Linked DNA regions of Homo sapiens: all the other regions are linked to region 2. Evidence: fine-mapped expression QTL. A gene starts in region 2. Each other region holds a variant in brackets. All regions are shown on one strand. Distances are from middle to middle.

Region 1 (11,032 bases), 30 kb before region 2:
CATTAAATATTGCTCTGTAATGTTATCAATAATTCAGTTTTCCCTCCTCCATTATAGGGAGCATTGTCTACTGTCAAAGTGAATTATCAGCCAGTATACCGGAAAATAACCAAGTCCTGAAATACAATGTCACTTTCCTCAATTAAAAGAAAAACCAGGCTGGGCACAGTGGCTCACGCCTGTAATCCCAGCACTTTGGGAGGCCAAGGTGGGCAGATCACGAGGTCAGGAGATGGAGACCATCCTGGCTAACATGGTGAAACCCCGTCTCTACTAAAAATACAAAAAGTTGGCCGGGCGTGGTGGTGGGCGCCTGTAGCCCCATCTACTCGGGAGGCAGAGGCAGGAGAATGGCGGGAGCCCGGGAGGCGGAGCTTGCAGTGAGCCGAGATCGCACCACTGCGCTCCAGCCTGGGCGACAGAGCCAGACTCCGTCTCAAAAAAAAAAAAAAAAGAAAGAAAGAAAGAAAAACCATCAGAACAAGAGATGAGTACTAGAAGGACCCTTTGGGGCCATCTCCTTTCTATATTTGCCCTGAGGTGTCCCTCGTTGGTCTTCCTAATTCCCTACCGCCTGCTGATGAGCTGATGTGGCTTTTCGTGTGGGAGAGAATTGACAGGAGATTCTCATACAGTGGTCTGCTCTGTAGTTGAACCTCAGGTCCAAGACTCTCTTCAACTCCTTTCCCCTCTGCCCTCTCACTCAGTTCTATATAACTGTATTTTAAATTTTCACTTTATTCTGCCATTGAATCTGCATGTACTAACAAAAACATGCCAGAGTTAACCCATCACATCACCATATTAAAGATTCTTAAATGTCATATACCTTTTGGATTGGTCTTTACTTTGGGAGGTGGGTAAATTTATCATAAAAACAGATTGTATTAAAAAAAGGGACTCTTCTGTAATTAATGTAAAACGTCAAGCTATTGAAAGAATTTGTGACTTTAATGGAATGAGATAATCATTCCACTTGCATTCCATCAGCATTGTTGCTGCTGACAACAGAGGACAGGATAGTCCAAGTCAAATCTACTAAAGGTCCTTGAGAGCTATTTCACAAGTCAGATTTTAAAGTGTCTATTTGTGAGTGACAGACATTGCAACAGTTAAAGAATGCTTACCCACTTTTCCTTGGCCTCAAGAGCAAAAACCAGTTTGGGCTCATTTCTTTCCACCAGCCTAGTCCATGACACCATCCCCCCTCACCTGGACTACTGCAGTAGACTGCTGGCTAAATCCCCTGCTTCTCCTGCATCCCACCATTCATTCATTCTGCACTCAACAACCACTGGGATCTGCAAACATCTCAAGGTCACCTCCCTCCCTTGCCTACACCCTCTGGTGGCTTAGAATAAAATCCAGACTCCTTCCCAAGGACTTCCTGTGGGGCCCTGGTCTGCCTCCTCCTGCAACCTCAACATGTACCCTCTCCCCCAACCCATGACACCTACCAGCCTCCTTCTGTGTATTCCTCAAATATGCCAAACTCAATTATGCTTCAAGGCTCAGGGAATTGCTGCCTATAACACTTATCTGCTGGTCCTTCATGCCTGGCTCTTTCTTGTCCCCAAGACTCGGGTTAGAGGTGATCTCCTGAGAAAGGCCCACCAGGCTTCTGTCCTTAGTGCACCTGTCACTCTTTCACCCCTTACTTCCTTCACTAGGCTTGACCCAATTCAGTCATCATGTTCAGTTATTGGTTTACTTGTTGATTATCTGTCTCCTCCTCTGGAGTATAATCCTGTGAGAACAAGTACCTTATCTGAATTAAACATGGCTTTGCTCCTAGCAGTGAGCCCAGTGCTTAGCACATGTACTCCATAAATATTGTTTTTAGTGAATTTGAAATCTTTAGGGATAACTTTGGACCACTCCAGACAAGAAATTCCAAAATCATAATCCAGACTTTCATATCTCTGTATCCATATCTGAAAAGTTGGGATAGAAATTAGCATTTATATTACAAAGTTGTTTTGAAGATTAAATGAGATAACATGCAAAGTGCTTAGAATAAGGCCTAAAACATCATTCAATAAATTTAGCCATTCTTACTATTCTTCCTAATATCTAGCCTTCAGGGCTGGCCGGATACTTTATAGTCTTTAGGTGTGTGAGAAATGTGCCATATTCACCCAGCGTGTTTGTATTTTGTTTGGACTTACAGGGGTTTCCATTCCTGGAACTGTCCTTACTGGACTTTGTTCTGTTTGGTTTAAATTCTTACATTTGAAAAGTATGTACCCTCTTTATCTCTCCCCAGAGGCATTCACAAGTGAAGAAGGTACCTGCTCAGAATGCATAGTTTGAAGAGTTTCTTCTGCTAGTTACCCCAGATACAGGAATTCCCCCCTATGGGAATATTCCACTTTGTATTTACAGATCCAAGTGCACCTTAACCAAAGTGACCTAATGAGACTTTGGAATAAGACATTAATTAGTGAATAGATTAATTCCCCTCACCCGTCTATAGATACTCCTCATGGCTTTACTAAGTGCCGAACCTTGTGGGAGATATACGTTGACCTTAAAACACAGGGAGAGAAGCAATGGATATTTACATGAACAGATAACCAACATCATTGGTCCCAAAATGGAACATGACCAATGAGTAGTTGGAATAGCAAGCACCATAGAATTTCTTTCCATGAATTCACCTTTACCGAACACCTGGTGAAGGTCAGGGCATTGTGCTCTGCTGCCATAAGTTACACACATATTTGTGCCCTACTCTTAATAGGAATTTCTGCTCTAAACCTCATGGCCTAAGAAGGTATTCATGAGGATATTAGATAAATTATGAATATTTTAAAAATTCTAACAAGTTTTACCATTAGTTGTGTTAATAAAGCTACCCAGGCTAACAAAACTATAACTGGATTCCTTTAATGGAATTCGATCACTCTATTTAATTGGTAACTTTGGATTTCTCATGCTGATTTCACGCCCTTGAATTCATCATCTGTCCCTCTACCCATTTCCTATATTCCCTGCCTTATTTAAAGATACCTCTGCCAACCCACTTTTCTTTCTTTCATCCATGAAATAACTGGAAAAGGTTTTTGCAAGAACACTCCTGGCTTCCTGATGTGTCCCTGCCTCCCCATCTGGCCTCAGGTCCAACCTTGCCTCCTGTCCCTTAGGCGCTTGCCCCTCTCAGGTTTCCTGATGATGCAATGTCATGTTCCATCTGCTGGGAACATCCTTCTCCTTGTTGTTGATTCAGAGAAAACCTGCACACCTACAAATCTTTCAAGCCTTGGCACAGATAGTGTCCTCTATGAACCTTCCTTGGCTCTGCTGAGCAAACTTGTAACTCATAGTATTATTAACTGTTTGTATGCAGGGCCACTAATAGCCCATCTTTGGGACTAATGAAACAAAGGTGTCTCCTAGCCTTTTGGAGAAATGCAGCCTGCAGCTAGGGCTCACAATTTGGCAAGCAGAGCCAAAGGAAGGCTGGATTTCAGTTCCTGCTTGCCCCAGAGCACAGGATACACAAACTTTAGAGGGTCTTTTTGCCTGTATATTTTGCTGCCACAGTGTAAACTCCTTGAGGACAGAAACCAGACTTTTCATCCTCATCTCTCAGAGGACAGCTGAATCCCTGGCATGGAGTATATGCTTAGTAAGTACTTATTCAGCGAGTGAAGGAATAAATGAAATATAATGCAAATTGGAAAATTAAGTACATTCACATACAGAGAGAGAAATTAATCAACAAACCAATCTATGGAAATGGAAATGTAACTGATACTTTTGGCTCACTGGATTTATCTAATTGACTTGTCTATCTGTAGGGAAAAAGGGAGGGTAAGCATGTGACCTCCTGATTAACATTTTTGAAGAATCCAGAAAGCACCAAGAGATCTATTAAGTCAGACCAGATGTCTGGAGAATTTTTAAATCTTCTTAATATTGATGCCAGCATGATTTCCCAAAGATGGGTTCAGACCTGCTTTCCTTGAGTGGTTCTGGCTAAATAGATTAAAATGAGGTAAACCCATTATAGCTTTAGTGTGACTGGCTTTGAAAGATTTGAAAAATGTTCTTTTATTGAGACTGAATAGCTGGATGCACTTTTGCTGCCAACATCAACACAGTCCAGGGCCCTCCTGTTATTTTCTGCTAAAGTTTTCTTAGGACATGGAATGGGGTGGGAGTGGGGGTGTGAAAAGCCTCCAAGGATTATGTGTTGCTTGCCATTTTTTTTGTTTTTTTCCTGGC[C/A]TTGGCTCATAGAGCAAGTTGATGGTAAATATTGGGCAATTTATTTAACCACACTATTCCTCAATTTCCTTATTAGCAATGCTGTCTTGTTTATAAGGAGTTTTGAAATTTCTGCAAGCACATAAAACACTGGTGCAAATAGCCAATGTAGGTATCATGTTGCTAATCCACTTGATGCCTCTCCAATAGTGGAGACCACCTGCATCAGACTCACTTGGCATATTTATTAAAATGCATATTCCCCCAGGCCCACCCCAAACCTTCTGAATTACAATCACAAGGGGTGCAACCAAAAATCTCCATTGTAAAACAAGCTCCTGGAGTGATTTTGATACACTCTAAAGTATCCTTTTGAGTATTTGCCTTCTTCTATTAAGCCTGAGATTGAGCTAGATGGTATGATCACCTAAAAATCCCCTGGTATTTTTCAGGGTTTTCTGGATTGACTCAATCTCAGCCATTTTCCCCAGAGCTACTGCATATTGTGATTGAATTATTCATTTAAAAAATATCTGAAGCTTTATTTTGCCAATCCTTGTCCTCAAAATGTGGATAATCTAGTAGGATGTTGAGGAATAATAGTTCGTAGTCAGAGGTAGGATAAAATTAATACTCAGGCTTCCAAAAGTAAAAGAATGAAGCCATGAGCATTAATCTCCCCGCTTTCAGTTTAATGTTGGACTTTCCCTAGGAGACCCAGAACTGAGGTCCTTTTCTTGATTTGGCCACTGACTCAGCTTTGACCTTGGGAAAACCATTTAATCTTTCCACACAGTTTCCCCCTCCACAATATATGCTTTCCCCATCATCGCGAAATATTTTCCAGAGGAGCTGTTTAGTTTATTAGAAGGAAAGTTGTGTTATGGTAACCATATATTATGCAACCAGATGTAATTTATGAAGCAGCAATAGCCTTAGATTATGGATTAGTAATGCTGATTATGTCTTACGACTGCAGAGGAACAAAAAAGGTTGTCTAGTCCTTCCCTTTGCCTTCCCTTTGTGTTGAGAACTGAAAAGAGTATTTAGGCTTGTGGATTTACTGGATAAGCTTCTAGAGTACCTGCAAAGATACTACAGAAATGGCAAAGAGACATTCAAAGTTCCTGTTTCTCTACTCAGAAACCTGGGAGAATGAAAGAACTGTTGCCAACCCCTAGCTTTGTTTCACCACCTGTCCTGGATAGATGATTCTACTGTATCACACTTAACATCACATTTGCCACCTTTTCTTGAACTGTTTCACTACCTTGAGACCTGTTACTGGTTCTACTGATGCAAAACAAATTACCACAAATTTAGCAGTGTAAAACAACACACATTTATGATCTCACTGTTTTCATGGAGCAGGCATCCAGGCACAGCTTAGCTGGGTCTTCTGCTCATGGTCTCACAAGGCTGAAATCAAGCTGTGGGTGGGGCTGCATTCTCATTTGGAGGACCAACTAGGGAAGAATCTGCTTCCAAGTTCCCTTGGGTTGTTGGCAGCATTCATTCCTTGCAGCTATAGAATTCATAGTAGCTTCCTTCTTCAAATTCAACAACAGTGAGAGTCTCTCTTGATTTTAATAAGAAATCCTAAGGCTTTAAAAGGTGAATGGACTTCATACCCATTACAATAGCTATTATAAAACAAACAAACAAACAAACAAAAAACAAGAAATAAGTGTTGGTGAGGATGTAGAGAAATTGGAACCCTTGTGCACTGTTGATGGAAATGTAAAATGTTGCAGCCACTATGAAAAATGCAATATGATGTTGCACTTCTGTGTATATCCCCCAAAAAATTGAAAAGGAGGACTTAAACAGATAATTGTACACTCATGTTCATAGGAGCATTATTTACAATAGCCAAACGGTAGGAAAAAAACTCCTGTTCATTAATGGATGAATGAATAAAGAAAATGTGGTATATACATACAATGGAACATTATTCAGCCTTAAAAAGGAAGGAAATTCTGACCCATGCTACAACATCAACCTTAAAATATGCTAAGTGAAATAAGCCAATCACAAAAGACAAATATTTTAAGATTCCACTTATATGAAGTACATAGGGTAGTGAAATTCATAGAGACACAAAGTAGAATGGTGGTTTCCAGGGGCTAGGGGGAGAGGAAATGGGAGTTACTATTTAATGGATACAGATTTCAGTTTTGCGAGATGCAGAAGTTCTGGAGATGGATAGTGATGATGGTTGCAAAATAACGTAGGTGTACTAATGCCATGGTACTGTGCACTTAAATATAGTTAAAATGGTAAATGTTATATTATGTATATTTTATCACAATAAAAATACTGAAAAGTTAATCGGGCAAGAGAGATGAACATATGGATCACAAAACAGGAAATGTAAAAAGCAAGAGGACATGGGGGAAAGATGCTCAACCTTATTGGTAACCAAAGAAATGAAAATTGTAAAATAGTATTGTGGTGTCATCTGTTAGTCTAATAGGATAATAAATGTTATTTGTCTGACACACACAGTTTGGCATAGAATTATATTCAAAACGTATTCTACTTTTCTGCTTCTTCCTCCCCTACCCCTGGAACAGAGATAAATCTTTATTTAATATTTTTATTCCAGTGTTTCACAGATGATAGATTATAAACCACTGCTAGGACTCTAGTGTAGTATACAAGTTGAATTTTTAAATAAGTAAAACCTTTTCTTGAGGCTCAATTTGCGTTCCAGTCTAAGGATATCAAATGCAATTCTGAAATGCTTATTGTATCAAAAAAGGGTTTGCCTGCAAAGATTCATTAGATGATTTCCACCAATATATCCCAGAGTTTACAGTACTAGGAGTGGGTGAGTCGGTACTATCTCTATACCCTAAAACTCATACAGTTGGAGTATCCCTAGTCAAAAAATTTTAAATCTAAAATGCTCCAAAATCCAAAACTTTTTGAGTGCCAACATGATGCCACAAGTAGAAAATTTCACAACTGACCTCATATGACAGGGTGCAGTCAAAAACGCGGTCAAAACTTTGTTTCATGAACCAAATTATGTAAATATGGTATAAAATTACCTTCAGTCTGTGTATACAAGGTGCATGTGAAACGTAAATGAATTTCATGTTTAGACTTGGGTCCCATTCCCCAAGATATCTCATTATATATATGCAAATATTCCAAATTCCAAAGAAATCTGAAATCCAAAGCACTTCTGGTGCCAAGCATTTTGGATAAGGAATACTCTATCTGTATTCTTACAATATAACAGATCCTGTTCACATTCCTGTTTTTAATAAGCCATGTGGCCACACACCTGCTTTATTATCCCTTTATTATCTCATCATTCTCATGGGTCATTACTATTTGTGGCAATTCACTGAAGGCAATTAGAGTCAAATCTTGTTGATAGTAATGAAATGTAGCTAACAATACCTCTATTATTAATTGGTCAAACACTATGAGCCAGTCATTCTATTAAGCATGTTTCTGTTATTTCACTTAATCCTCACATCCTTCTCAGACAAGTTATATAACCACCCTTTTAAAGGTGAGAAATACGGGCTCAGAGTTTTAATAACTCACTCCAAATCACACACTTGTTGATAGAGCTAGAATCCAAACCCAAATATGTCCAACTGCAAATCTCTGGTCTTCCCACTACATTACACTGCATCCAGGAATATTAATTATATTTATTTCATAAGGAAAAGGGATTTATCAGAGTAAAAGTATAGACATGTGACTTTGTAGAAATAGCTTGTTAATAATCATAGTTCCTAAAATTTCTTATTCAGGAGTATTTTTTTTAAGTCAAAGTTATGTAGGTCCCCCAAACAAGCTGTTGTACATTCAGAATAGAATGTTTCCTATTTCATGTCAAAAGTGCAGATTTGCTTCCTGATAAGATGTACTATTTGGAGACTGTCTATTTTTTATTGTGATTCAGATGCAAATAACAGGAAAACATATTTTTTTCCTATCTTGGCAAAAGAAGTATTTCTAAAAAAGAATACTTAATGTAATGATTTAAATTGCTTATTTTGTTATTGTGAATTGGGAGAAAGCAAATTTTAGCACAGGATTCAAAGAAGTAACAATGGCCTACTGACTTAGAAAAGTCCAGCCAGGGAATTTCCCAAGACTCTAAGCCATGAGGCAGGCCCTCAGAGACACTGGCTCCTCTTCCCTGTCCAAGAAAATGAAAAAATGCATAACTACAGAGTATCGAAGAGACACCCAGGCATATGCCAACTCAAAATGAACTACTTTGCAAGGCCTTATGTCCGTGTATTAAAAAAAAAATCTAGCATCAAAAGAGAAACAAAAACCAAACTTGTCTTTGTAATCCTTAGACCACTCAATAAATGGTCATTTATATGTAATATAGCTTTTAAATGGTGGTGAAATGTAAATAAAATATTTTTTTAAATATCCTCTTTTCCTTAGAGAAATTCAGTTCTGAATTTTTAAGGTCAAAATGTTTTCAAAGATTTTTCAAAAGGAGTGTGAAAATTGGCAACAAATAAATTTGAATGTGAAAGACAGTCATACACACACAGACACACACACACACACACACCACACACATTTTCATTTCACTCGGCCTGTTCTAAACTATGTGCTGTTTCTTGTGTTTTCAGAGCGCATACATGTTTTAACCGTCTGGATCTGCCTCCCTACCCATCCTTTTCCATGCTTTATGAAAAACTGTTGACAGCAGTTGAAGAAACCAGTACTTTTGGACTTGAGTGACCTGGAAGCTGAATGCCCATCTCTGTGGACAGGCAGGTTCAGAAGCTGCCTTCTAGAAGAATGATTGAACATTGGAAGTTTCAAGAGGATGCTTCCTTTAGGATAAAGCTATGTGCTGTTGTTTTCCAGGAACAAGTGCTCTGTCACATTTGGGGACTGGAGATGAGTCCTCTTGGAAGGATTTGGGTGAGCTTGATGCCCAGGGAACAACCCAACCGTCTTTCAATCAACAGTTCTTGACTGCCAAACTTTTTCCATTTGTTATGTTCCAAGACAAAGATGAACCCATACATGATCAGCTCCACGGTAATTTTTAGGGACTCAGGAGAATCTTGAAACTTACCCTTGAACGTGGTTCAAGCCAAACTGGCAGCATTTGGCCCAATCTCCAAATTAGAGCAAGTTAAATAATATAATAAAAGTAAATATATTTCCTGAAAGTACATTCATTTAAGCCCTAAGTTATAACAGAATATTCATTTCTTGCTTATGAGTGCCTGCATGGTGTGCACCATAGGTTTCCGCTTTCATGGGACATGAGTGAAAATGAAACCAAGTCAATATGAGGTACCTTTACAGATTTGCAATAAGATGGTCTGTGACAATGTATATGCAAGTGGTATGTGTGTAATTATGGCTAAAGACAAACCATTATTCAGTGAATTACTAATGACAGATTTTATGCTTTATAATGCATGAAAACAATTTTAAAATAACTAGCAATTAATCACAGCATATCAGGAAAAAGTACACAGTGAGTTCTGTTTATTTTTTGTAGGTTCATTATGTTTATGTTCTTTAAGATGTATATAAGAACCTACCTATCATGCTGTATGTATCACTCATTCCATTTTCATGTTCCATGCATACTCGGGCATCATGCTAATATGTATCCTTTTAAGCACTCTCAAGGAAACAAAAGGGCCTTTTATTTTTATAAAGGTAAAAAAAATTCCCCAAATATTTTGCACTGAATGTACCAAAGGTGAAGGGACATTACAATATGACTAACAGCAACTCCATCACTTGAGAAGTATAATAGAAAATAGCTTCTAAATCAAACTTCCTTCACAGTGCCGTGTCTACCACTACAAGGACTGTGCATCTAAGTAATAATTTTTTAAGATTCACTATATGTGATAGTATGATATGCATTTATTTAAAATGCATTAGACTCTCTTCCATCCATCAAATACTTTACAGGATGGCATTTAATACAGATATTTCGTATTTCCCCCACTGCTTTTTATTTGTACAGCATCATTAAACACTAAGCTCAGTTAAGGAGCCATCAGCAACACTGAAGAGATCAGTAGTAAGAATTCCATTTTCCCTCATCAGTGAAGACACCACAAATTGAAACTCAGAACTATATTTCTAAGCCTGCATTTTCACTGATGCATAATTTTCTTATTAATATTAAGAGACAGTTTTTCTATGGCATCTCCAAAACTGCATGACATCACTAGTCTTACTTCTGCTTAATTTTATGAGAAGGTATTCTTCATTTTAATTGCTTTTGGGATTACTCCACATCTTTGTTTATTTCTTGACTAATCAGATTTTCAATAGAGTGAAGTTAAATTGGGGGTCATAAAAGCATTGGATTGACATATGGTTTGCCAGCCTATGGGTTTACAGGCATTGCCCAAACATTTCTTTGAGATCTATATTTATAAGCAGCCATGGAATTCCTATTATGGGATGTTGGCAATCTTACATTTTATAGAGGTCATATGCATAGTTTTCATAGGTGTTTTGTAAGAACTGATTGCTCTCCTGTGAGTTAAGCTATGTTTACTACTGGGACCCTCAAGAGGAATACCACTTATGTTACACTCCTGCACTAAAGGCACGTACTGCAGTGTGAAGAAATGTTCTGAAAAAGGGTTATAGAAATCTGGAAATAAGAAAGGAAGAGCTCTCTGTATTCTATAATTGGAAGAGAAAAAAAGAAAAACTTTTAACTGGAAATGTTAGTTTGTACTTATTGATCATGAATACAAGTATATATTTAATTTTGCAAACTTTTCACTTGTTTGTATTCTTTTCATTATAAGGAAAAGTAGTATAACACACTTTTTTTTAA
Region 2 (11,032 bases):
GGGTTAAGATACAGGGTGGCCATAGAGTAACAAATGTCCCAGTCTTGAAAGACTTGAAATCGGTCACTATGATGAGAATAGTGGTTCTCAAGCTGTTTGGTTCTCAAACTTCTACACTCAAATATTACTCAGGACCTCAAAGAGTTTTGGTTGATGCAGGTTATATCTACGTAGATAAGTAATGGTAAATATGGTAATCTAGTAAGTATAGTCCATAGGACATGGTTAGTATGCTCAATACTTACCATATTAGAAATTAAAGGAGAGGCAGGCAACATGCTAGATGAAAGATTCACTTTGTGATTAAAATCAGATGATATACATAATATTGAAACACAATTTTCTGGATCTCTTTCTGGATTCCTATTACATATACTTTTATCTGACTTGGAAATTTTGATTGGAGGTTGATATTGGATTGAACCTGCATCAAATTACTGGTACAATGGTGTTTTTAATAGACTGCAAAAATAATAGAAGGGCTATATTTTGATTATTTTATTAGTTCTACATTCTCTAAATTTGAATATTTAAAGCAATGGCAGACTCATTCATTTTTCTAAACAAAGCCTTTTATTTTAGAGCAGTTTTAGATTCATACCCAACCAATTTCCCTTTTTATTATAGGATCTTACATTAGCAAGGGTGCATTTGTCACAACTGATAAACCAATATTAATACATTATTATTAAATAAAGATTTCCTTAGTTTTTGCCTAGCATCATTTTTCTATTCCAGGTTCCCACCCAGCATACCACACTACACTTAGTCGTCACATCTCCTCAGGTCTCTCTTGGCTGTAATTATTTCTCAGACTTCCCTTGTTTTGGATGGCCTTGACAGTTTTGAGGAGTATAGGTCAGGTATTTTATAGAATGTTCCTCAACTGGGATTTGCCTAATGATTTTCTGATGGTTGCACTGGGATTGTGGGTTTTTGGGAGGAAGACTACACAGGCAAAGTATCATACTTATCATGTTATATTAAGGATACATAACATCATGACTTATGACTTATGACTACTGACCTTAACCTTGATCATCTGGCTTGAGGTAGGTTTCGTCAGGTTTCTCCACCCTAAAGGTGCTTTCTCCCCATCTCTTCCTATATTTCAGTCTTTGGAAGAAAGTCACTATGGGCAGCCCACACTTAAGGAGTGGGGAGTTATGCTCCACCGACTTGAGGGTGGAGTATCTGCATAAATTGCTCATATTTCTTCTGTATGGAAGATTTGTCTATTCTTTCAACCATTTATTTATGTCAGTATGAATTCATAGACATTTATTTTATACTTTGGGTTATAGTCTACTACTGCTTTATTTCTTGTGTTGCTCAAATTGTCCTAGCTTTGGCCATTGTGAGCTCTTGTAGTTGGCTCCTGGTTCCCTTCTCTTTGAATGCCCCCATAATTGCATGGTGGTGTTCGCTTGCACTTCCTTCTTTCTGGACTACAAGATACTTCAGGCCCATCTGTATATTTCCATCCTCAGTCACAGAAGCAGCCATTTCTCCAAGGAGCTTTGATTCCTTTTCTTGGAGAATGATATTAGAGACTAAGACCTCAGTGCTAAGCATGCTGTTGTTTCTGAGGTGTCATTACTTTTTAGGCACCCTCAGCTAACAGAGCAAGGAGCTATACATGTGTATGTCAACCCATGTATATACACATAACCTATAAATATTTCTATATGTAAACATCTGTATCTATATTAAGCTAAACAGGAGTTTCGACCAGATGTCTCTAACTCTGAGCCCTCTCCCTTTGCATTTTTTATATACTTGAAAAGTTATTTTAACAATAAAGCAATTTTGGAATGGTAGATATGAGAAGAAACAAAAGGCTGAAAAGAACAAGGACTCCAGGAACTAGATGAATAAAACACCCAAGAAGGTGTGCTCTTTTGTTAGTAGCTAGTTATTAAATATCCACACAGTAAAAGTCTGTGTAGGCTGAGTGTGGTGGCTCACGCCTGTAATCCTGACACTTTGGGAGGCTGGGGGAAGGGGGGTTGCCTGAGCTCAGGAGTTTGAGATCAGCCTGGGCAAATGGCGAAACCCTGTCACTACTAAAAAAAAAAAAAAAAAACAAAAACTGGGTGTGGAATGCACGCCTGTAGTCCCAGCTACTCAGGAGGCTGAGGCACGAGAATCACTTGAGCCTGGGGGGCAGGGGTTGCAGTGAGCTGAGATTGTGCCACTGCACTCCAGCCTCGTTGACAGAGTGAGAACCTGTCTCAAAAAAAAAAAAAAAAAGTCTGTGTAGTAGAGGATGGACTTGAATGACTGCGAGCAAGTATATAACTTCCACGTCCCTTAGTTTTCTGGTTTTTGTTTTTTTTTTTTGAGATAGAGTCTCACTCTGTTGCCCAGGCTGGAGTGCAGTGGTGTGATCTCGGCTCACTGCAAGCTCTGCCTCCCCGGTTCACGCCATTCTCCTGGCTCAGCCTCCCGAGTAGCTGGGACTACAGAAGCCACCACCACGCCCAGCTAATTTTTTTTTTTTTTTGTAATTTTAGTAGAGATGGGGTTTCACCATGTTAGCCAGAATGGTCTCAATCTCCTGACCTCATGATCTACCTGCCTTGGCCTCCCAAAGTGCTGGGATTACAGGTGTGAGCCACCGTGCCTGGCTAGTTTTCTTATCTTTAAAGGAGGAAAATATAGCACTGTAACTCATAGGAGGATGTGAGCATTAGATGAATTAACATAAGCAACACATTTAGAACAGTGCCAGTTTCATTATTTATGAACTGTTGTTGCCATGTACACTATGAGGCAAGTATATTATCTCCATTTTACAGATGAAAAATAGAGGCACAGAGATTTTCTAACCTGGTCAAGATCTCACAGCTGGTAAATTACAGAACCATTCTCTCATAATCTGTGACCTTTTAAAGGTTTCTGAACAGCTCTGAACTTACTGATTCTTCGGTAAAAGTGAAGCCATGAAATGCTGCTCTATAAATCTAAAGGAAAGGCCAACTACTAAAAAGATTCAAGAATCTTTGAATATTCTCAATGTCAGGAATGCTGTGATAATCAGGAATAGTACCATTTCCCACATTACTAATGCTTTTATGCCACAAAATGGCTCAACTTTCAGAGTAGATTGGCCTTCTCAATGTTCATGCTATCACCTTACACCAGTTGACACAAAGATCACTCCTAATGAGGGAGTTGCTGGGGATTAAAAGTTGGCTCTGCCTTATCTATATCTGCTACTGCCTGCTGTAAGAAGACTCACTACGTGAAGGGTTTCTGGAAGGGTACCTGCCATGTACCCTGGAGAATGTGATAGCAGGTTGTCATTCATGGTATATGCAGTTGGCAGAGGAAGTTTCTTAGCAAAGTGAAAAAGGAAGAGATTTATTAGGGAGAGCTAGTAGGCGTTATCTACTCAAATCAAATAGACAGCACCCTATATTTATACCCTGTATTTATTTCTTTGCACCACTTGATATCTACTTCCTTTAAACACTAGTGACTAATTTCTTTATCTCACACGGCCCCCTGGACTCCACCATTTGTTGACCCTTAGAGCTTCATTCCGAACTTGGGTGTCTCCACCAGATAGATACTGAAAGGAAAAGCAGTCACCTCCCTCTCCCCTTTCCTTTCCAATGACATTTTTCTCCCAATGATCCCTACTAGCATCAACCATAAGATGTGAGGAAAATCGAAAGTATCTTATAAAGCCATTTGACAAATATTTATATAGAACCCACAATGTCTTGAGCATCTTGCTAGTCACAGGGCGCAGTAGTGCACATGGGGAGCTGGCAAAGCACTGGTAAATAATAATAGCTTGTAGGAACAGAACCAAGGGTTTATTCTTGTTAGGCACTGTTCTTAGTATGCATTATCCCATTTCAATCTCATGGAGGTAGCTATTATTATTATCCCCATTTCACAGATGAGAAAACTGAGGATCGCCCAAAATCACACAACAAGGAATGGGCAGAACTGGGACTTGAAGGCAGGGCTGCCTGATGTCACACACTTAACCACACATATATCTTCTCTTTCTCTCTCACAGCTTCTCACGAGGTAGAACTTTAGAGCCTGGTGTGTTTGTGGCTGGAGCATAGCAGCTCTTCTACAACTTTACTGTAGTTTCTACTGAATATTTTGGTTTGCAAATATAAAGGATTCTCTGAAGCACAACCTTAAATAACGTGTGGTAGACACCTGGGAGAGGAAAACTGCAGACAGAAAAATGTGGCCGGATGCTCTGTGGGCGGGCGGCAGCGATGTTCGGCCAGGTGGCTCCAAGGAGAGGAAGCAGTGATGCATTGAGGTAAGAGAGCTGACAGATGAAACCACATGGACCCTAAGACAGAGTGGAAGGAGGGTGCCTTAAATATTGTAGGGTGTGCTCTTATCAGGTTATGAGAATGCAGTTGGGATACAGGTTTGCTTTCTCTTGCCTGTATCATCGGAGTGATGATTCAGATAAATTTAAAAATTACTTTATTCTGAAGTATGTCTGATGTGAAGAGGCTTAAATAATATCTTAGGATTAAGAGTCAGGAGACCTAAATTATTGTTCAGATATGTACCACCGAATTTAGGTGTGTGATCTTTTGCAAGTCCCTCAACTTCTCTCACTGTAGGTTTCTTCCCTTCTAAAACAAGGGAGTTGGGTTACTGAACTGCAAGAATTTTTCTAGCTCCAGACTGCTCTGATTGTCTCTAGCACTGGAAATTTAGACACAATTAGAAGGCACGTTTCTAGCCCTTCAGACCTACACTGCCTAACTTAGTAGCCACATGTGGCCATGAAACACTTGGGATGTGGCTAACATGACAAAATTTTCTATTTTATTTCATTGTCATTAAATTTATATTAAGAAACTGATACTGTATTTAGTTATTGAAAAACTTTATTTATTTTTGAGACAGAGTCTCGCTTTGTCGCCCAAGCTGGAGTGCAGTGGTACACAATCTCGGCTAACTGCAACCTCTGCCTCCTGCGTTCAAGTGATTCTCCTGCCTCAACCTACTGAGTTGCTGGGATCACAGGAACCTGCCACCATGCCTGGCTAATTTTTGTATTTTTAGTAGAGACGGGGTTTCACCATGTTGGCCAGGCTGGTCTTGAACTCCTGATCTCAAATCATCTGCCCGCCTTGGCCTCCCAAAGTGCTAGGATTACAGATATGAGCCACCACACCTGGCGTGAAAAACTTTAGTTTGTTCAAAACAACTTAGGAATGTGAATCTGCTTTTTGCAACAGTAAATTTTGTGAAATCTAAATACAGATCAAGTGTTTCCGATGAAAATTTGGCATCTGAATTGGGACATGCTGTAAGTATAAAATACTAGATTTAAGACAATATTAAAAAAGGAAGTAAAATGTCTCAATAATTTTTGTTGATTACATGTTGAAATGACAATGTTTTAGAAATATTGGGTTAAATAAAATAAATTGTTAAAATTAATTTTATCTGTGTTTACTTTTTAAAATATGACTAGTAGAACATTTGCCAATGTGCGTGGCATTTCTTTTGGACAGCTTTTACAGGACAGGTTATACTCTATAAACTGCAGTGAGTGGTTGGATTGGCATATTGGCCCTAGTTGATCATGGATGTTTTGGAGAGGAAAGCTGTGTCACCCTTTAAGGAAGACACTTGTACCAGTCTGAGTTATTACTCTCATCAGACAAAACTAGCCCCAATTAGCTTTGCTAATAGTGTTTCAAGAGAGTCAGGGGATGTGAGGTCTCTTAGAGTCTCTCTGGTTCTCAGTGCTTTCAAAATTGCAATGTGCTGTAGGCACCATGAGTAAATGCACTGCGACATCTCCATCTGAGTACACTCACTATTCCTACCTCCAGAGAGGGGATCTGTTTGGAGGAGCCTGTCTCCATTCAGTGAGCACCCCTGTTGGGTGGGGGGTTGAGCCACGCCCCTTCAGAGGCTGTTGGCCTTGCCTGCGTCTGGCTACCTTTAGCCTAGCCACAGGTTTCTGGTATATTCAGTTCTAGACAGGTAGTAGAGCTTGTTTTGCCTTTTCCACATGAATTCTTCAGAAGGAGGGTGTGTCAGTGGCAAGAGTTTTGAGTTTGAGGCCTTCTGCTCTGTGCAAAACCCTCCTTTTCTGCATCTACAGGGAGTAAACATGGAATCGGTGAGAATCACTTTCCTTGATCATTATGTGGTCAGTATGCGGTGACTGACTTGATGTGACTGGGGAAGGTCCCTTCCCTGGACAGAATATGGTGAGTGTCGTGCCATTACCGGAGAGGATCACCTTCCCTGGCCACATGTGGTAAGCAGTGACTGGGAACGATCATCGCTCCCAGTCAGTGTGTGATTACTAACCTGGAGTGATCCAGGAGGACCACTGTATTTGTTTGCTTGGACTGCCATAACAAATACCACAGAGCGGACAGCTTAAACAACAGACAGTTCTGGAGGCTAGAGGCTGTTGATCAAGATATCAGCAGGTCTTGTTTCTTCTGAAACCTCTCTGCTTGCTTTGCAAATGGCCACCTTCTTGTTATGTCCTCACAGGGTGGTCCCTTAGTCAGTGTTGTATGTGTCCTAATTTCTTCTTATCAGGACACCAGTCATCTTGGATCAGGGGCCACTCATATTATCTCATTTTACCTTAATTACCTCTTTAAAGGCCCTATCTCCACATACGGTCATACTCTGAGTTCCTGAGGGTTAGAATTTCAACGTATGAACTGGAAAAGAACACAACTGAGCCCATAACAACCGCCATCCCTGGTCGGAATGTGTCATTCAAGGATGGTCAACTTAATGAACTGTGTGGTCAGAAGCAATGACCACAGAATGACCATCAGGTCACCTGGAGATTTCCTACTCAAGGGAATGAGAGCAGGAACATATATCTTTGACACGGTGATGAATGAGTTTAGGTAAATGAGGTGGATGGAGGAATGTATTGACTTCTGAATTTTCCTGCAAGGCCACAGATGTACTGCCTCCTCCTCAGCACCAGGAATTCCTTGTTACTTGAACCACAGTGCCTGAGACCAAGTAAGTGTAGTTGAATGTCCTTGGGATAGTGTGGTAAGTCCTAGTTAACAAATCTGACATCAGGCACAAGGGTTAACAATCTATTTAGGGTCATAAAAGAAACACAAACTATCAGCCCTGCACCAAAGAACATAAGGCAGAGGTGATCAGGCTGGGAACAGAAAGTAGGAATCAGCAGAGTTCTGATTCCTGAAGAGGGTAACCTTCTTAAAGTCAGAAACTGATGAACAGGTATGGATGAGGAGGATGGTGATAAGCTGGAGCTAAGGCAGAAGCAGGAAAATGCAAGACATGACAATATCCCTAGGAGGCTGGCTGGTTACAGCAGAGGTATTGTGACCAAGAGGACTGGCTTACAGTGGTGCCAGAGAGAGAAAAGTCTGTGTCTAGGTGTGAAGTGATCTGGGACTGGATTAGTGACGGGGAGTATGGGGTGAGTGTGAGAAGATTGCTAAAAGCTGGCAATTGATGAAATGTTGAAATTAAGGAGGTCCAAAGTTAAACACACAACCCCAAAACCACCATAATGATGTAATCCTGTGACCCCCAAGAGGTTACTAGTTTTGGTACTGGTGCTGAGACCTCTGGAATGCAACACCTATGCTCATGAAAGAAAAGATGGGAACAGTCTCATTGCTTACGGATTCTTATACCCCAGAAAAGTTAATTCCAGTGTGTGGCATTTTATTTTCATCCTAACTTTAGGCTTCTCTAGTCAGCCCAATTGTTAGCAACAAGAAATTAGATAGATGGAAGCAATATTCTCCATTTGACAAGGTTTAGGGGCAAGACATTATTAACCTGGGAGGAGGAGTTAACCTAAGTAACAACAAACAGACTTCATAAAAGGGCTGTGATGCATTCTATACCTTTATCTTGGGGAAAATGCAGTAGGAAAGGGAAACAGCTAGCTTCACAGGAATTTGCTTGGCTTACTGGGATAGAACAAGAAAACCTGTCCTTTATATGCTAACTGAACATTAAGTCTTTTGAAAGCAAGAGGACGACTCCACTCCCAGTATCCTTTCCCACGGAAGGGTTTTCTGCAATTATCGTAAATGTCCTCTGAAAGCAATCCTAGATTACATAACTAATCCCATATATGTATGAGTATGTGTGTATCCTATACATATAAACTAGGATTATATATCTATGTAAAACATTTGTGTCTTGCACAGAACTTTGAAAATTTCCACTGTCTTCAAAGGATAACAGATCTTGAGTAGGTTGCTGAGGGCTTTCATCTTTTTCCTTAGCACTATAAATGCAAAATCGGCTATTCAGCCTATTGGGACCCTCCCTACACTGCCTTCAGTCAGTGCCTCAGAAGGGACACCATTCGCGACAGCGGACGTTAGCAGTGGGGTCTAGGTTCCATAAATCCCCAACTGATGTTGACACTCCGAGGAACCTCTGCCAAGTTGTAGCAAACTGGGTTCTCCACTTACAGGGTACGTTCCGGTCCTAAGGAAGACTCTCAAGAAGAGTCAGAAAATAGGTCTTTGGTAGGCACTGAAGTTTGGTAACTAGTCGCAGGCAGCTGGGACGAATTTTGCGGCTTCCTTCTCCCCGGTCTCCGGATATTCACACCTCTCGAACTGACCTCTCTGAAGGTGGGAAGGAGTACACAGAGCAGTAGTTCCAGCCCCGCGCGCCCCCTCTGCAGCGCCGCCCCCTCCGCCCCTCCCTCGCGGCAGCCCGAGTGCGCCCCACCTGCGCCGCCACGCCGCCGCGCCTCCCCGCCCCGCCTCGGGCCAGCCAGGCGCCGCACCCTCTCACCGCCGGGCCCCGCCCCGCACACGCGCCCCCGGCCGGTGCCCCGCCCCTCCCGTCACGTGACAGACCCACCCTCCGCACCCGTTCCGATTGGCTCTCCCGACCTAGGGGGAGGGATCTGGCGAACGGCGATGCCCCAGACGCGGCTGCAGTTTTCAAACCGCGACTGCAAGCTTCGGTAGTCCTCTCCGCTGCTGTCGCCAGGAGTCACTTCACGAGAAGCCAGGTCACAACCGTCGGCCCTTGTCTGGAAAAGTAAAAGTGGATCCTGCCACGTTCGGAGCTCCCTGGCGCCTCGCCCGGCTGGAGCTAGAGAACTCGTCCTGTGGCGGCCCCCGGCGTGGGGCGGGACAGCGGCCCCCTGGAGGGGGCAGTCCCGGGAGAACCTGCGGCGGCCGGAGCGGTTAGTGTCCTGCGGGATTGGCGGGTTGGCTCGGGGCTGCGATGGAACCAGCCGCCTCGGTACAGAGACCTCATACGTGAGGAAGGAGGACCCGAGGAGGGTTTAGGCGGTACGGTCCGGCTGAGAGGGGCTTGGACTCCGCCGCCCCTGAGGTGGCTGATTGCTGCTGGCGCCTCTCCGCTTTGCGGCTGGAGTCCGGGTTCCCTGGGGCTCCGCGCGGGGGGCGGCCGGCGGTCCTCCCACCACCCTCCTCAGCCCGGGGCGCGTGTCTGTGTCTGTGCGTGTCCGTGTGTCCCCGTGCGCCCTCCACCCGGCCGGCCCCGGCTCTCCCCAGGTCGCGCCAGGCAGGGCCCCCTTCGCGGCGGGCCCGCGCGGGTCCCTTCCACAGCAAGGCCACGCGGTCCCCCTAGCCTCTCCCGAGTCCCAGCTGCGGCGTGGGCGCGTTCCCATCGGGACTCGTGGACGCGTCCTGCTCCCAGCTGCCTTTCGTCTAGAGAAAGTTCGTGTTCATCTTGTGGGACGTTTTCAGTTACTGCTTGGGAACAGTGTTTTAAAACCAGCGAGAGATCAAGACGGGCTACAGCTGTTTCCGTGATTTTCAGCGATCTGATTTTTGCTTTGATGCCTTGTGACCCACTTAGTGTGCACGACTCATCCTCAAACTATACCACTACTGGATGCCAACGATTTTTGACATTTACCCAGGCTCTTTGTTTTATTGTAGGGAAAAGCGTTTCATTTGAATTTCCTCCGAGGGAGAAGTAGAGACAAAGTTGAAAGAGGCTTTATAGCAGCTGGTAGCTGGCATTAGTTTCTGTCTGGACTAGAGGCACTCTGACATCAATTTGGAAATTGGAATTAAGAAAATACGTTTTTAAAATCGTAATACTTATCAGATTTCACTAATATTTAAACACATGAGGACTGTGTATCACATTCACCGATTGTTTTGTCGACGTAATGTTTACATCTGTGGTGCTAATGATAAGCAGAACCTTGCCAGGGACGTTTGACGTGGTGTGGCCACTTTACGTTTTCAAGTCTATGAGAATGTCTGCGCGGAGACAGCATAGCTCTGTAGAAATGAGTGGCAGCGTATGTAACCTGGCATTTTGAACCCAGGAGCACAATTTTATTAAAGGAAAATAAACCTACTTTCTCATTGATAACACTGTTTTTTAGTTTTATGGTGAACTGTTCGGAAGTAATTTTCAACAAGTGCTTATTTTATAAATATTAGACCGTGTACCCCTAGGATTGTGTATTTTTTAAGAAAACTGGTCCATAGAAGCGGTGCAAAAGTTTTAAACTCATCTGCCTCGGATCCTCCTCCTCTGAGCAGATGCTCAATTAAACTTTTTCTAGTATCTTAATAATTGGAGGTATTAATAGATGTTTTATTTTTGAGATACATATTGTACATTTTAGATCTTTTTTTTTTTCTAAAGTAGGGATCCAAAATTGAGGTGAAATATATTTGCTTACATGGCAAGACTTTTTAAAAGTAGAATTTCTGTAATTGAAGACCATCCTTTTTTGTGTGTGAATAGAATGGTTGCGGTTTCTCTTGGGATCATTGATTAGTGAATTACGATTTGGTTAAGATAGAATGCGTTTTTAGGAAGTTGGAGGTTTGACTAATCGCTGTGTTAGCATATGAGTAACAAATTTGAAGAAGATACAAGCATTTTTATGGCTGACGTTTCTAATCAGATAATTTTATTTTTAAGCTTGCTCTGTTTTACTTTTGTTAAGTGAACATTTTAACATGTTTTAAAGCTCTTTGATAATTATAAGGGAGAATTTCCTTATGAAAATATTTTTGCTTTAATTTTAGAGACA
Region 3 (11,032 bases), 73 kb before region 2:
TGGATGAATGGGTGGATGAGCAAATGGTAGGAAATGCAGCTTGGCAAATGAGCTTTGAAAATGAAGGCAGTCATGATGTTGACAGAATAGCAGATGTATATAGGTCCTTATTATAGGCAGTGCATTGTTCACACTTTAACAGCTGTCAGAACTGAAAATGATTTCAGTAGAAGTGCAAACTCCATATGTGTCACTAAGCTGCTGTATGTTCTTTGGTATATAACATGTGTTTTCACATACTGCAATGATAATGAAGATGCAGCCTAATTGGATACTGCAAACAGGAAAAGATGTATTAATATGTTCATTTAACACAGATTTATGGAGCATCCAACTATGATCCAAGCACTGAATTAGACTCTAGGACTACAGAGATGAATAATACAGTTTCTTCCTTTGAAGAATTCATGGTGTGGCAGTGAGTCAACAAATAACTCTGTGAAGCTCTGTAGTTAGTTCTGTAATGAAGAAATGTATGAGAACACAGCTGTGGGAACAATTATTCTTTCAGGGCTGGGGATGGGGTATTTGGGGAAATATGAAGTGGAACCTTGAAGAATGATGAATAGGAGTTTACCAGGTGGACCAAAGAAAGAAGGACATTCTAGTGAAGGGAGTGATGTGTTAGGCCATTCTTGTGTAACTATAAAGAAAACCTGAGGCTGGGTAATTTATAAAGAAAGGTTTCACTGGCTTATGGTTTTGCAGACTGTACAATCATGGTACCAGCATTTGCTTGGCTTCTGTTGAGGGCCTCAGGAAACTTCTACTCATGTCAGAAGGTGATGGAGAGCCAGCATGTCACATGGTGAGAGTGGGAGCCAGAGAGAGCAGGGGGGAGGTACCACACACCTTTAAACAATCAGATCTCCTGTGAGGTCACTCATCACCAAGGGAGTGGTGCGAAACCATTCATGAGGGATCTGCACTTATGATCCAAACACCCCCCACAAGGCCCTACCTCTGACACTGGGGATTATATTTAAACATGAGATTTAGAGGGAACAAACATCCAAAAAAACCATATCAGGTAGCATAAGCTAAGCCACAGAAGCATGAAAGTAGTGTAGGAAATAGATACAAGTAAGTTAATAGATACAAGGGAAGGGAAGTTCTCAAAGCTCAGGTTGGAAAGGTAGGCTAGGGCTGGTTGGTCATTGAAGCCTTATTATTATTATTATTATTATTATTATTATTATTATTTTGAATCGGAGTCACACTTCTTCGCCCAGGCTGGAGTGCAGTGGCGTGATCTCCCAGGTTCAAGTAATTCTCCTGCCTCAGCCTCCCCAGTAGCTAGGATAACAGATACATGCCACCATGCCCAGCAAATTTTTGTATTTTTAGTAGAGACTGGGTTTCATCATGTTGGCCAGGCTGGTCTCAAACTCCTAACTTCAAATGATCTGCCTGCCTCGGCCTCCCAAAGTGCTGGTATTACAGGTGTGAGTTGCCACGCCCAGCCAGCCCTATTCTATTGTCCATGTGAAGCCACTGAAAATGTATAAGCAGAGGAATACCAATAATATCCTGCTTTTCAAAGATCAGTCTGGTGGCAATTGGGAGGATAAATTAGAAAATGAGAGACTAGAGACAGTTTCTCAGAGAGGCCATTGCATTAGCCAGAGTAACATGATGAAAGACTGGACTAGGCAGTGGAGATGGGGACCAGGGAACAAATTGAAGGGATATGTAGGATGCAGAGACATCAGGACTTTGAGTAGAGGTAGGGAAGAGTCAAGGAAGATTCAAAGGCCCTCACTACCTAGGCTACCAGGCAGATGGTAGCACCCTCTGCCAAGAATGGGAAATGGTTAGACTCAAATTGGAAGATTGAGTGAGTTTGGTGTTGGACAAGTTTTATTGAGAAATCTTTGGGCCATCAATGGGAGATTCCCAAAGACAGCTGGAAATGGCAGCCATGGCGCACAGGAGAGGTTGAAAGCAAGGAGTTCAGTGTACTGGTGGCAACTGGAACCTAGAGTATAGACTAAAGCAACTGGGGAGAAAGTCATTGAAAAGGAGAGGAAATAGAGGATGATGTCATGAGAAACCTCAATATTTAAGGGATGAGCTGAGACAGAGAAGCAAGTGAAAGAAAGAGAGCCAACAGATTTTGAATAGAGTTAGGAAAGTCTTTTCAGGGGAGCCGGGTTTCACAGAGGAGTGGTCAATAGAGCCACATGCTCAAAGGGCTCAGGAAGTCCCAGCTACTCACGGGGGCTGAGGTGGGAGGGTTACTTGGGCTCAGAAGGTCAAGCCTGCAGGGAGCCATGATCATGCCACTGCACTCCAGCCTGGGCAACAGAGTGAGACCCTGTCTCAAAAGGGGGATAGGGCATCAAGAAGGATGAGATCTGAAAAGAGGCCTCATTTAGATTTGAAAATCATGACATTATCAATGGTCTTTGCCAAAGCAGGTTCTGTGAAGTAATAGGTTATAAACCGGATCATGATTGGTGACAGAATGATACAGGATCTGAAGCAGAAGTCAAATGCTCTTTTCACGAAATCTGGAGGTAAAAAGAAAGCAAAATAGAACAGTAGTTAGGAGAAGAGAGAGGGAAGGAATTTTAGGATGGGAAGTTGAGCATACATGTGCAGAGGACACAGGACGTGAGTGGAAGGAAAGTGGTTTGTGGAATAAGGCAGGCTCATGGGCAGCACGACACTGAAGGAAGAAACACAGGCCAACTTTGGAACAAAATAGGGACACCTATTTTGATGACACAGGCTGAAAGAAGTGTATGACACTACAGGTAAGTTTAAAGGTTTAGGGGAAAACTTCATGAAATTCCCAACTGGGAATTTCATTCTTTTAGCAACTGTCTGACTTTAGGCAGGGTACCTCCTTCCCTGAGCCTGAATCTCTTTTTCTATAAAATAGAGATAACAATAATTACCTCACCTCTCACGATTATTTTTGGAGAACACTTTGCTTGGTGCTTGGAACATAACAAGTAGCCAATAAAGGTTAATGTGTCGCTTTTTCTTTCTTTCTTTCTGGAAATTTGATTCTGAGAAGTAGTTTGTTCACATTTGAACCATTAACAACTGGAACATACGAACCCTGATTTGCAGAGCTGTCTGCTTAGATATTTAATCATGCAGAGTGGACTTTATCTTAGTAAGAGCCTATGCTGGGGTTTAAAGTGGACCATCCCTTTACCTGTGTTTTATGGTTAAAGACATGAAGCCATGTGGATTGTTGCTCGTGCCAGTCAAGGCTGTCCTTTTCCAGGCCTTTTGTGTGGCCTCTCCTCCCTGAGGAAAAGGTAAATTGCCAAATGCTGCCCCTTCCGTGCTCTTTAAAGGCATGCACTTGAAGACTGCACACATTCTTCAAGACTGTATGAGCACTCTAAATGTGGCTGAGTTCACTTCCTCATTTAGCATCGCAAATGCACATGAGTAATCATTGGTGACAATAAAATCCATTCTAGAAACTTACATTTAGAGTTAAACATTTTCCAAAGACCTGTGTAACCCAAATATATCTAAATTGCTAGCAGTGTTTGTGGTGGTTTTAATTTTCAGGAAGAATCATCTCCATATTTCTGGCCTACTCTGTTTCAGTGGGCTTTGTTTGATCTTGAAACTGGGTTGTACAGCCTGATATCAATGGAAGTCACTATAACAAATTCCACATGATACCAGGGCAGGACTACCTAACCTCATTTCCCCTCTGGAGGAATCTTCTGTTCCTTTGAATAAAATAGCTTCTCCTTCTACCAGGATTCCTGAAGGTTTTGTGAAAGCAACATTTCAAACAGATTTTTTTAAGTGGTCTGATCCTCCTTGTGACTATAATTTCACCCCTTTTAGTGGTGTGAGAATAATATCTTGAAAATTATGACAGTAATAAATTTTAATGATCTTCATTGAGAATTCCTAGGAACCTGGTAAACTTTCCCCCTTTTCCTCATTCCAAGCACGTTGACATGTATTTTCAAGTGCAGAAGAGAGAGGGGCTTTGGAAACTTTGACTCACTGCTTTTTGCAGCTGTTAGAGTGCTCACCAAAATTTGTCAAAATTTTGGAATGTGAAGGTTTGTTTTTCTAGGACCATTATAATGCCAATCCCAACCTCAGTGATGCCAGAAGGAAAAGATCTTTCCAAACACCATGTGGCTTATTATGCCAAATATGGGACCCAGAAGTTTATTTAAGCTGCACATTTCTAGGAAATTAAATGCAATAACACCTAATTTATCTGATATTATTGGAGATGTGCTCTCTTATGTGGATTTTCCAGGTAACCAAAGCTATGATTTTAACTGTATGAGAATTTGTTTGACCCCCTATTTGCTGAAACTCTTTCATAAATATATTATATTTCTCTTTACTTTCCTATACACTGCACATTGAGGATATTTCATGGTTTGGGGGGATCATTGTGCCTATGAATCATGATGCAGAGCTCTTGTTACTTGACTAGAGCTGGACTCCCTGGAAACTAGCACCAGCAGAAAGTCACCTTCAACAGAAGTAAAACACTCAGAGAGCACAGAAGAGCCCTGTGGGTCTTTACTAAAGATTGTCTTGAGGGGATGGGTTGTGAGAGGGAATTATTTCTCCCACCACATTGTGTGCCCTTAATGATCTTCGTTTTCTTTCTCCCACCACAAAGTCTTAGCATTTTACCAGCTGTTTATGTCATCTTCTCTTTTCACAAACAGTTCCTCTTCTCTGCTCATTCTCTCTCTCCTTTTCTTCCTTCCTCCCTCTCTATTCCTCTCTGTCTCTCTCTGTGTGTGTGTGTGTGTGTGTGTGTGTGTGTGTGTCTGTCTGTCTCTCTCTCTCTCATCTGTCCCTCTCCCTTTCCCCACCTTTCCTACAGTCCCTGAAGTAGCTTTAGAGTTGTTTTTAGAAAAGGTGTTTGATCCCTTCCCTTGACTCAGCCCTACAAAGATGATCTAGGAACCAAATTGCACAAATGAAGGATGCTCCCTGGGTGGGTAGGGATGGGGAAGTTGTGATCCCAGAGACCAAAAGAAAGCCACAGACACTGTCTCTCTCATAGTATAGAGACTTAACTTTTTGTGTTGTTAGTCTCCCTTGTCCTCACCCATAGAGCTATCAGAGGGTGCCTGCTATTGGCAGACCCTTTACATTTCCCTTTAATAAATCACTTCCCTGCCAAGATCTCTGTCAAGGTTTGAGAAGTCAGAGCATTAAGTTATTTTCAATAAATGGTATGTACATGAACATCAGCAAGCTCCAAGAAATGACTCGAGGGCCTTTTACTACTCAGAGAATAAAGCAAAAATGCCAGGTTTTCAGTGCTTGTGCTTTGTGCCAGGGATTTGGACGTGTTTTTTGTTAAGTTCCAGCGTTGAGCTATGTTCCAGAAGATGGAGCCTTCCAGAAATTATTGTAGTGCTTGATGTTTTGTTTTCATTCACTCACAGGGCATTTGTTTTAAATGTCATAGGGATTTTTTGAAAGTGAACCAGGAAAGAGATGAGCGTCTGAGCTGTCCCAGGACAGAGGCATGGAGCCATGCTGGATCAGGCTAAGATCCAGCCCCTGTCCAATACGGAGAACCAGTGCTAGTCATCAGAACAGTCCAGGTTCTGGGTCACACACCCAGAATCAAAAAAGACTGAGACTGCCCGGGAGTTGGATGCCAAGCTATTTCTAGTGTCTTCTGAAATATTTTGTCAGATAGAATTCTTTAGTTTGTATATGATTATGCAATTTTGTAACAGTATATGAAAATAGGGTAACACAATATAGAAGTTCTTTAGACCTGCCTAGCAATGACAAAGCAAAAACTCCCTAGTGTCTGTTACTGAAATTTTTTCCTGCACAGTATTAGCAAAATGCTGACTATCCATGAAGTCAGCCCTTCATTTGATGTAACATTGATCTTTTGTACCTGATTTTCTTTAAGACTGTAAAGACCATAAAATTCCTCTGTCTACAAAGTATTATGACCTAGAACTTCACTTGTAGTTCTCACACAATTTTATTAGCGCAATCTTCCAAGAACATTTTGTATTTCCAAAGTGGAAGTAACATCATTCCTGCTCTGGAATTTCTTGGCAATTATACCTCACTTGTATTAAGAATTTGACAAAGGCCAACAGCATAATTTACTGTAATTTTATTTATTTATTTATTTATTTTGAGACAGAGCCTCACTCTGTTGCCAGGCTGGAGTGCAGTGGTGCGATGTCGGCTCGCTGCAACCTCCGCCTCCTGGGTTCAAGTGATTCTCCTGCCTCAGCCCCCCAAGTAGCTGGGACTACAAGCACACCCAGCTAATTTTTGTGTTTTTAGTAGAGACGGGGTTTCACCATGTTGGCCAGGATGGTCTCGATCTCCTGACCTCATGATCCACCGACCTCAGCCTCCCAAAGTGATGGGATTACAGGCGTGAGCCACCGTACCCAGCCAATTTACTATAATTTTAAAATGAAATAATGTGTAAATGACTTCTTTCATGATGGAACTATGAGCAAAAGAATTTTTGCATTTAACAATTGCTGTCTCAGAGTTTTTATAATTAAATCCCTTTACCTAGAGTATAAACAGAATCAGAGCTAATTTTTATTGTGTCTGTATTGATATTGATGGAATGCATTATGGCATTTCCCACGTCCTTTTAAGCATCTCAAATTATATAGGAGTAGTTAGTGTCTGTGCTGTTTTTTAAAGTAATCAGCTCTTAAAAAAACATGTTTCTTGGCAGGGCACAGTGGCTCATGCCTGTAATCCCACCACTTTGGGAGGCTGAGGGGGGTGGATCACAAGGTCAGGAGATCGAGA[T/C]CATCCTGGCTAACATGGTGAAACCCCGTCTCTACTAAAAAAATACAAAAAAATAATTAGCCGGGCGTGGTGGCAGACGCCTGTAGTCCAAGCTACTCAGGAGGCTGAGGCAGGAGAATGGCATGAACCCGGGAGGTGGAGCTTGCAGTGCCCGAGATCGTGCCACTGCACTCCAGCCTGGGCGACAGAGTGAGACTCCGTCTAAAGAAAAAAAAAAAGTTTCTTTTGTGTCTTAAAAGATTTTCGTTCAGTTCCTTGTTCTTCATTTTTCTCTCTCTTATCAATGATTTTGCTCTTGAAAGTTGATTCATTACAGCTGCGTTCTGCCCTGTCTGGGTTTTCTAGTCTGCAGTTTCTCAGACTGGAGCACTGACACTGATTGTGCCACCCTTGAGTGGACTTGAACTGCACGGTCCTATCCCTCATTCATCTAGGAGAGCAGCCTTGTGTTCATGGAGATAATGTTCCTTCGTGTTGCAAATTATGCCTTTCGGTACACAGGAAACATTTGCCCTGTGTTAGTCCCTGGATGCTGCCCATGTGTTTCACTGGTGATGTTTGACCTTCTTATAAGGGAATAGTGGTTCTCAGCCATAGCTACACATTACACATTGGAATCATCTGGACAGTTGTATTTAACACTCATGCCTGGGTCCCACCCCACATTCTGGGTCTTTACACATTTTGTTGTAATGCATCTTGGGTGTGGCCTGAACATTGGAATTTTTAAAAGCTTCCTAAGTGATTCTAATGTGCAGTCAAGATTGAGAACCCCTGCCTAGGAGTCTCTTCTGCTTCCCAGATCTTTAAAGTCAAGTTTATTCACTTGCTTTATGACATAACTCAGCTCTTTGCCCAGCTATACAAACAGATCTCCAGACAGATTATTGGTCAATAGCCAGTTTTGTACAAATTCATTAGTAAAATCTCAATTCATTTCCCTGTCTTTAGTATTCACCTCTATGCAGATAACAACAGCTAACACTTACGTGGGATCTCTTATGCAACAGTCACTGCATAAAGTGCCATAAACACACTAACTCAGCTCATCCACACGTGTGGCCCTGAGCTCTCACCCCAATTCCAGCCCTGTATTTTTCAGTCTCTAGGGCATTTTGTTAGCTGTCATATCCAAGTCAATATGTATAAAGTTTCACATGCCCTTGTCCACCTGCATCACTTCCCACACTCTTCATAGCATCAGGTAGATAGACTTGGCTCAAATCCCAAATCTACTGTCACTGGAATATGACTTGGACAGGAAACTGCACCTTCATTTTCTTTAGTTGCAAAGTGGTGTGTGATGGTCCTAGTAATACCCGCTTCGTAGACTTGTGAGGATTTCTCAAGATCCCCTGTGTAACGTGCATCATCTGTAATGTACAGCAGGCGCTTAACAAGTAAGACCTGTTGTTATTGTTTAAATACACTTTATATTATCATCATGCTTCCCATTCTTCTTTCTTGCTTATCTATTCTTTTCCCAGTGCATATTTCACATTGTAGATGTTTCTCTGAGTCACTCACTCCAGTCTAGTCCTTATCCCCTCAGGCTTCAATTACTGCAACAACTCCTAACTGGGGCTCTTTCCTCTTGCCCACCCTTAATTTACTCAACACACTCTGAAAATAATTTCTTAAATAAAACACCATTTGTATGTTATTCTTCTGCTCAAGAACCTATAAAGGCACTGTTCACTGCATCATGCCCAAACTCCTCTGCTAGGTTTTAAAAATTCTTGTCATAATTTGGCTCCAACCCTTCTGATCAATTTCATTTCCCATTTACTCCCAGCACTCCTCCTCCACTCTAGGCTAGCTTGGTTCTCTTGGTGTCTTCTGAACACACATGCAGTGCTCATGCCAGCTGTTGCTGCTGTGTTCCACTTTAGGATATAAATTCTCCTTCTTTTGCAAGGTGTGGTTCCAATTAAGCTTCCTCCCTAAGGCCTTTTCCACTTTGATCTCTACTTATACTCATTTCTTTTTTATAACATTACTATTACTTTTGTGTAACACTGATCTTAACAAATGCTTGCGGGGCTTGGGGGGCAGGCAGCCATGTCATTGAGTGGCTGCCGCAAAGTGGTGAGCTCATGCCTCGTCTAACAGAGTAGCTGCAGCTGCCCGCTGGATCCCCAAGGAAATGCAAGCCAGTCATTGCAAGATTTCCCAAATAATTTTCAAGAGAAAAATCTGGAATTTTTAAATTTGAAATTTAATTTGTAAATGTTGGCAATTAATTTAAAATATTCAAAAAAGATTATGGGGCAAGCAACTGGGATCTATAGGACTAGGTATAGCCCCAGGGGTATAGCTTTGTTTCCTCTGCTTTCTAGTCTGTATACCTAGTTCAGGACTTAATTATTCTCTAATTGTTTGATGTTTTATTTCTGTTTCCCCAACCCACTCCAGCAACCCCACCTTACTCATTTTGGACATCCATTGGTGAACCTAACATAGTATTCCCAATGAATAACAACTATTTAGTTCACTCATTTGTTAGAGACATTTTTAATGAACTTACATGGTATGTAATGAACAAGACTTCCCAGCTTTTGTTTTCTGGTTTCTTTCATTGGTTGGGAAATATTTAGTGGAAATATCCAGTGTTTTTGTCATGGCTCTGTGTCTGATTTCCATATTCATCATCAGTTTTCTATCCCAACCTGCTGCTTGTGTTACCCAGTGACACAAAACCAGATTTTTCTATGGAAAGAGGAACAATTGGCTGGGCATGGTGGCTCACGCCTGTAATCCCAGCACTTTGGAAGGCCGAGGTGGGCGGATCACCTGAGGTCAGGAGTTCGAGACCAGCCTGACCAACATGGAGAAACCACGTCCCTGCTAAAAATACAAAATTAGCTGGGCGTGGAGGTGCAAGACTGTAGTCCCAGCTACTCGGGAGGCTGAGGCAGGAGAATCGCTTGAACTCAGGAGACAGAGGTTGGGTTAGCCGAGATCACACCATTGCACTCCAGCCTGGGCAACAAGAGCAAAACTCCGTGTCAAAAAAAAGGAAAGAGAAACAATGTTACTTTTACATATTATTAGTGATAATTACCATTGAATAACGTATAAAATATGCTTATATAATCTAGATATTCTCAGTACTTGGCACATGTTAAGAATGCAATAAATGGTCTGGCGCAGTGGCTCACACCAGTAATCCCAGCACTTTGGGAGGCCAAGGCAGGTGGATTACCTGAGGTCGGGAGTTCAAGACCAGCCTGACCAACATGGAGAAACCATGACCCTACTAAAAATACAAAATTAGTCGGGCGTGGTGGCACATGCCTGCAATCCCAGCTACTCAGTAGGCTGAGGCAGGACAATCACTTGAACCCGGGAGATGGAGGTTGCGGTGAGCTGAGATTGTGCCATTGCACTCCAGCCTGGGCAACAAGAGCGAAACTCCGTCTCAAAAAAAAAAAAAGAATCCAATAAATATTAATATTATTTATTCTTTGTGCAAGTGCGCACTTTGTGCAAGTGAGACAGGTGCCTTTTGCAATTATGTGTTATATTAAGATTTTACCCTGCAATATGAGATTTATGTAATTATGTGTCTAAAATCATTCTTGGTGATAGTGCATATCTAAAAGAAGTTTTGTAGGCCAGGTGCGGTGGCTCACACCTGTAATCCCAGCAATTTGGGAGGCTGAGGTGGGTGGATCACCTGAGGTCAGGAGTTCCAGACCAGCCTGGCCAACATGGCAAAACCCTGTCTCTACTAAAAATACAAAAATTAGCTGGGCATGGTGGCAGGCACCTGTAATCTCAGCTATTTGGGAGGCTGAAACAGGAGAATCACTTGAACCCAGGAGGCGGAGGGTGCAGTGAGCCAAGATTGCACCACTGCACTCCAGCCTGCTGGGTGACAGAGTAAGACTCCGTCTCAAAAAAAAAAAAAAAAAAAAAAAAAGTTTCATGAGGAGTTTTTTGGTGAGGAATTTAGAGTGAATGATTAAAACCTCACTCTTGGTGCCACTTACTTATATACCATGTACTTTCCATTGCAACTTCCTGTCTAATTGCCATGATATCATTTCAGCAGCAAGCAAAGACATTTCATCCTAACAGTTACTACTAGACATGAGTAACTCTGTTTGACTCATATTAGTTTCGACTGAAAAGGGGAACATACTTGAGAAACACATGGGCACCATTGTAACTATTCAAACAGAATTTTTATTCTCAACCAAAATGCCACAAAGAGGACGTCACTTAAGACCTTGGTTGAGGTTTGTTATATCCT

Direction of the effects. Alleles are on the strand shown, and positions count from the first base shown. SD is a standard deviation of normalised expression in the study named. Not every link is listed here.
As copies of C replace A in region 1, the expression in tibial nerve of the gene that starts at base 8,945 in region 2 goes down (small effect, 0.21 SD a copy in GTEx).

Evidence for each region. PIP is the estimated chance that this variant, and not a neighbour inherited with it, causes the effect. A credible set is the group of variants that fine-mapping cannot tell apart.
Region 1: its variant is the best candidate, but not a certain one, in a credible set for the expression of STK17B in tibial nerve (GTEx, PIP 0.89).
Region 3: its variant is the best candidate, but not a certain one, in a credible set for the expression of STK17B in whole blood (TOPMed, PIP 0.74).

The regions. Positions count from the first base shown.
Region 1 is chr2:196,199,188-196,210,219 of GRCh38, reverse strand. It overlaps HECW2 (HECT, C2 and WW domain containing E3 ubiquitin protein ligase 2), which reads left to right. Exons shown (of 29, transcript NM_001348768.2): 29 at 8,832-11,032. The coding sequence ends at 8,943. Among named protein-coding and RNA genes, the nearest start is that of STK17B, 33 kb to the right of the region's middle. The variant C/A (reference allele first, on the strand shown) is at 4,231.
Region 2 is chr2:196,169,491-196,180,522 of GRCh38, reverse strand. It overlaps STK17B (serine/threonine kinase 17b), which reads left to right and starts at 8,945. Exons shown (of 8, transcript NM_004226.4): 1 at 8,945-9,190. It overlaps LOC101927454 (a long non-coding RNA gene), which reads right to left and starts at 8,984. Exons shown (of 2, transcript XR_923737.2): 1 at 8,892-8,984; 2 at 7,675-8,618. RefSeq lists an enhancer at 3,963-4,222 and silencers at 8,650-8,879, 9,400-9,619.
Region 3 is chr2:196,242,350-196,253,381 of GRCh38, reverse strand. The region is part of intron 19 of HECW2 (HECT, C2 and WW domain containing E3 ubiquitin protein ligase 2); the gene reads left to right. Among named protein-coding and RNA genes, the nearest start is that of HECW2-AS1, 12 kb to the left of the region's middle. The variant T/C (reference allele first, on the strand shown) is at 6,775.